Linked DNA regions of Homo sapiens: region 2 is linked to region 1. Evidence: fine-mapped expression QTL. A gene starts in region 1. The other region holds a variant in brackets. All regions are shown on one strand. Distances are from middle to middle. Region 1 holds the start of NAB2 (NGFI-A binding protein 2). Region 2 holds the start of STAT6 (signal transducer and activator of transcription 6).

Region 1 (2,897 bases):
GGGCAAGAAGAACTTGAGCGCTGAGGCTGACCAGCACCGACCTGGGATGGCTGGACCTCCCTCTCCCCCAAAACACAATCCTCACCTTCCCCTCTAAACACTCAGCAGTCTCAACACTGAAGTGAAGTCACCCATACTAAAGTGAATGTAGGAGCCCAGTCTCCCCCACAGTGGACGCTGCTGGCCAGCTTCATTCCCTGTGAAGGGGCCACAGCCCCAGGTGGCTAAAAGGGAGGGTGTGGCACCTTCCCTGGCTTTCCCACTCAGTGAGCCAGGTGGTGCCTTACTCTTCTCCGCTCAGCTTTTCCCAGGGGTTAAGCATTTATTTATTTATTTATTTATTTATTTATTTGAGACGGAGTCTCGCTCTGTCACCCAGGCTGGAGTGCAGTGGCGCTGTCACTGCAACCTCCGCCTCCCGGGTTCAAGCGATTCTCCTGCCTCAGCCTCCTGAGTAGCTGAGATTACAGGCGCCCGCCACCATGCCCGGCTAATTTTTGTATTTTTAGTAGAAACGGGGTTTCACCATGTTGGTCAGGCTGGGCTCGAATTCCTGACCTCGTGATCCACCCGCCTCAGCCTCCCAAAGTGCTGGGATTACAGGCCTGAGCCACCGGGCCCGCCCGGCCTGGTTAAGCATTCTTAACGCACGCTTCCTCTCTCCCCTCAGAACCTCTCCACCCTTCCAGGCTGCCCAGTGCTCCTCAGTGGCCCCTCTCCTAGCAGTGACACTCCCCACTTCCTCGGTCAGCCTTTTCCTTCAGCTCAGGGGCCGTGGCAGGGGGAGGGGCGCAATTGTTCTGCTCCGGGGCCGTTCCGCCCACACACACTCCCACAGTGGTAGCGTCTGTAGGCGAAAACCGCCCAGGGGCTCCCGCCTACTCTCCTCTCCCATATTTTCCACCCGCATCTTCAAGTGGAGTGGGGGAGCGGCTCAAGGCCTCTTGATGAAGGGGCTGCACACTGAAACTCCCCTCCCCGCTCTGTGAATAAAGGGACAGATATGGGAAGGAACGCCTAAGGCCTCCCTGCCTCCCTCGTCACCCCCCCTTTCCCCCGCTGATGCTCCTTTAACTCAAAGGCACCGGGGGCCCGCGCGCTCCGTGCCAACGAGGGACTGAGGCAACTGAGCGTCCCCCCACCTTCCGCACTGATGCCAGCTCGAGCTCCAGGGCATCCCCTGGTGCTTGGAGGCTCCCACATTCTTTGCAGGGGGCTCTTAGGCCAGATGGAGCCCACAGAGTAAACCAGGAATGGAGATTTGGGTACTACTCTTTCATATCCAGCTTCATCAGATGCTTGCCTGCTCCCAGGGCCCCCTAATTCGAAGACGCACCCCCTTTTCCATCAGTCTCCACCCCCCACCCCCGTCCTGCTTCCCCACGTCCTCCCCTCGACCTCCGCCCTCTGGACCCCATTCCCAAGTCCAGCTCCACCCATCTCCACTCCCCGCTGCCTCCCTTTGCCCACTAACTTGAGTCTGGGCTGCAGGGTCCGGCGGGCGCTGTCCCCTCCGCCCGGCGGCTGCTCGGCTGTGGGGGAAGGCGCTCTGTGCATGGACGGCCGGAGATCACCCGGGCTGCCCTTCTCGGTGCCCGGCGCTCGGCGCCTGCTGCGTGCTGCCCTCTTCCCCGCGCACGATGCCGTGTCCACCGCTGTCCAGGCTCTGTCCCTCCCTCCACGTCTTCTCTCTCCGAGCCTCCGCGCCTCTGTCTGTGCCTCTGCCCCCCCACCCTCCCCGGCTGCGCTTGCCGCCTCTCCGCGCCTCCGCCCCCGCAGGACGCACAGGGAGCGAGGCCCGGAGCTGCGCTGGCTGCCGGGCTGGCGGGCGGAGGGCGTGGGCAGAGCCGGGGGCGGGGGTGGGGGCGGGGGCCGGGGAGGCGGGCGCTGGGGCCTCTCGGCCGCGGAGACGCCGCGGCTTAGAGACTGGGAGAGGCGGAGACGGGGGGGGAGGGGGTGTGGAGCAGGAGGCGGGGGCGGGGATTCAGAGCCGGGGCGCCGAATTGGGGACCGAGGTGACCGAGGCCCGGCTGTGCAGGGCGGGCTTGGGGACCCAGCGGGCGGGGCGAGGTCGTTCTGTGCCGCCCACGCCGGATGCACAGCCGGCCCTCTTGGCGCCCACGTACCCACGTGAGCGCCCCGCCGGCGACATTCCTTCTCTCCCCCACCCCTCCGAGCTGAGAGAGGAGTTTCACAACCACGCACAAGTACACAAAGACACAGAAGCGCACGGACGTGCACACGCGCCTAAACAACTACGGGGACGCCCGTTGCCCATACTCAGGCCTTGTGGTGCTGGACGTGTGAATGTTAGCAGTGAGCCGGGAAAAGTTAGCGAAGGCTGGGCTGTGCGGCTTCTCCTGTGCGTGCATCTGACTCCCGTATAGTGTGCACTTAAGGCGGGCCTGAGAGCGTGGGGCTCTGCAGGGATCTCCTAGATATCCCCGCGCCCCTCCTCAGCCCCAATGGAATAATCTGAGGGGGTCGCTCTCAGAAACCCAGGCCTCCATGCTAGCCTGGAAAGTTTGGGAAACAGGAATGGGAGGGTTATGCTGCACGCCACCACTTAGGTGCGCGTGTTGATTAGACGCGTCGGCTTTTGTCAGCGCGTAGGTCAGGCAGGGATTCCTCCACTTGTCCTCTGTTTGCTGAGGATGAGGCCCTGCCTGGGAATTTTGTGTGACAAAGACGATACCCTTCCTGGGGCCGTCTATTAGGGACCTCGCCCGAGAGTCTAGTGGAAGATGAGTAAGAGGTCGGGAGCCTACGACGTGACTTCCTGCGGCGGAGCTGGAAGGAGGAGCGCCTTGAAGGAGCTTAGCCCCCGCCTCTGCAACCCACCACCGTCTCCCCCTTTGGTTTCTCCTAGCCCCATCTGGTTCGCATTGCACTCCCGC
Region 2 (2,897 bases), 21 kb before region 1:
CCCCTTGTGAATCTGCAGGCAGCAGCTCCGGCTTGTGCTGGTTCCCACCACAGTCTCAGGAGGGGTGCCCTGTGAGGAGAGAGCAAAGACCAGCTTCAGTCCAAGGGACTCCTAGAGTCTTCCAGAATTCTGAGCTGAGGGTTCCCCTCCCCCACTCCCTCCCGTCAGTGGTCACGAGACCGACCTCTAAGGCGTTCCCTGCCGGAAGGGAGGGGGACCTAGGAGTTGGCTGGCATCGAGCTCCCTGGCGGCTTTTTAGGGTCCTCCACTGGAGGGAGCGCAGAGTCCAGAGGGATTTACTTTTCCTGAGGCCCTGGGGAGCCCAGTCCCTTGTGGGTCCAAACCCCAGCCCTTGGCAGAGTTTGAGTTTGGGAGCCAGGCAGTTAGGGGTGGCAAATCTCTGTTTGATATTGGGTGACTTTCTGGAGAAAAGCTGATGCTTTTGAGGGGGACAGAGTAAGTGGGGGTCAGCCTCCCCCCAAGCCTGGCTCCAAGGCCTGGACCCCAGTCCTGATCCCCCACGTGTTCCCCCACTCGGCACAGGAGGCACACATATTCACCCCACTTTCTTCCTCTTCCTCCTCCAGCCCACTTTCTCTTCTCTGTGTCGTCAGAGCTCCAGGGAGGGACCTGGGTAGAAGGAGAAGCCGGAAACAGCGGGCTGGGGCAGCCACTGCTTACACTGAAGAGGGAGGACGGGAGAGGAGTGTGTGTGTGTGTGTGTGTGTGTGTGTGTATGTATGTGTGTGCTTTATCTTATTTTTCTTTTTGGTGGTGGTGGTGGAAGGGGGGAGGTGCTAGCAGGGCCAGCCTTGAACTCGCTGGACAGAGCTACAGACCTATGGGGCCTGGAAGTGCCCGCTGAGAAAGGGAGAAGACAGCAGAGGGGTTGCCGAGGTGAGGGGTTGCCTCCGAGGTGGGTGCGGGGGCCTCTATGAGTGCATGGGGGTGGATTCGTGGGGGGAGCTCTCGGGATCCTCCCCTGGCTGGGTGGATGGTCCCCAAGAGATGGTTTCAGCTAGTGTTGGTGGCTGGTGGCACTGGGTTTTAGCAGTTTCGAACTCCTGGAGGAATCTGGGAGGGTCCAGGCCTCAGTACTCCCCTCCCCCATGGGTCACGTTTTCACAGCCTCACCCCTGCACCCCCAGGGCCATGGAAAGTCAGGGAAAGGAGGTGAAGGAGTGCCCCTCTGCCCTGAGTCGGGGGAAGTGGCCGCCCCTCCCTGGAAGGTTGATGCCAGAGGGCAGTGGATCCTTGTTAAACCCCTATCCTGCCCTCCACTAAAGGTTCCTGTTCAAGGGTGTGGCTGGGGCGTGAGCAAGCCCCAGATGTAGACCTCATGGTGGCCCAGACGAGGGGGAATTTCCCCCTCAAAACTGCTCCACGCTTGGCTGCTGTAGACGCTGAGATTTCCCAGCGGCGGCGCCGAGTTAACCCTCCTCGTGCTGAACTGGCTCCACCTCCCCGCCTGCCCCCACCGCCACATTCACGCATTGGGCAACTCAGAGAAGCTGTTTTAACTTTCGATCCTGTGGTCCCACAATCAGAGGACTCGGGCAGATAGGGGTTGAGATAAGCGAGTTTAGGCCACCAAGCGGGCGGACGAGGATC[C/A]CAGACCTTGCGCTTCCCTTCTGAGTTTGGGAGGTAACACTGGCCCCGCCCCTCACGCCGTGGCTCCTCCCTCCCTTCCCCTTCAAGGGGCTGAAGACAAAAGGTGCCCCTGTCCTGGTCAAGCCAATCGACCCAGCCTTGTTATGGGTTGGGGTGGGGAGAAATGTGTCCTCCTGATGGCTGGGGAAGAAGAGGGGTTGGATATTTCTAGCCAGGGCCATGCCAGGAGGCTGGTCACTCTGCAAGGGGATGCAGAGGAAAGCGGTGCCCACTCACTCCAGAGGACCTTTCTCTCTTGGGCTAGAGAAAGGCCTATTGGAGGAACCTGAGCAGGAGGGGTAAGGATTCTGCCTTGAGGAGAAAAGAGCTGGGGTAAGTGGGCACTGGAGGAAAGAGGGGCATGAAGGTCTTGGAGCAGAAACGTCCAGAGAAGGGACCTCTCCATTTTCCATCCCTCTGAGAGGCCTGGGAGAGGTGAGAGGCTGAACGTGCAACAGGAGGACTTGGGGTTACTGGGTTTGGGGAGACCTGGGGAGTTGTCATCCCATCCTCTCCCTCATCTCTGGGAGAGGGATATTATGAGAAACGTGAACTGAGAGGCCCCTGGGAAACCACTGGTTACCCAGTCCTCCCTGAACCTGGAAATGGGGATGCAACCCCCTCTTCTACTTCCCTGTCCCCTCCTCTCCTTTCTACCTGTTTTCGTCTCTCATCTTTGCCTTCTAGCCCTCCAGCTTCCTCTCTCTTCTAGGCTCTTTCCTCCTAGCTTACTAAACCCGCCTTTTTTCCAGTCTCTTCCATCCTCTTCCTTAGTTCTCTCTACTTTCCTTTTCCACCTCTCCTCCTTCAAGTCTCCTCCCACCTTCCCCCACTTCTTAGGATGATCAGATTTGCCCCTGGAAGGGATCCTAACAACACAGTGCGATGGTTAATCCCCACTCAGATTCAAAGCCTGCTTTCCAAACTCACTTACTGAGTGGCCTTGGGCAGAGTAGAGAAACTCCTTAAGCCTCAGTTTCTTCATCTATAAAATGGGATATTATATATTTTAAAAAGTGTCGTGAGGCCTGAAGGAGATAATACACTGAGTGTAATGCCTCATACACAGTAAGTGCTTAACAAATAGTAGCTGTTATTACTCTCCCATCCTCTTCATCATCTAGCCTTGTGGTTTTCATTTTTATTTTATTTCATTTATTTATTTATTTATTTTGAGGCAGAGTCTCTCTCTGTCGCCCAGGCTGGAGTGCAGTGGCTCGATCTCTGCTCACTGCAAGCTCCGCCCC

Evidence for each region.
Region 2: its variant is fine-mapped to the expression of NAB2 in whole blood (TOPMed, PIP 0.95).

What each region holds. Positions count from the first base shown.
Region 1 is chr12:57,087,932-57,090,828 of GRCh38, reverse strand. It overlaps NAB2 (NGFI-A binding protein 2), which reads right to left and starts at 1,715. Exons shown (of 7, transcript NM_005967.4): 1 at 1,475-1,715. The coding sequence starts at 1,557. It also overlaps a transcript of NEMP1 not described here. RefSeq lists a silencer at 1,504-2,123 and an enhancer at 2,394-2,443.
Region 2 is chr12:57,109,129-57,112,025 of GRCh38, reverse strand. It overlaps STAT6 (signal transducer and activator of transcription 6), which reads left to right and starts at 664. Exons shown (of 22, transcript NM_003153.5): 1 at 664-897. It overlaps LOC124902946 (a long non-coding RNA gene), which reads right to left and starts at 1,304. Exons shown (of 2, transcript XR_007063334.1): 1 at 185-1,304; 2 at 1-69. RefSeq lists enhancers at 1-590, 591-1,538. The variant C/A (reference allele first, on the strand shown) is at 1,612.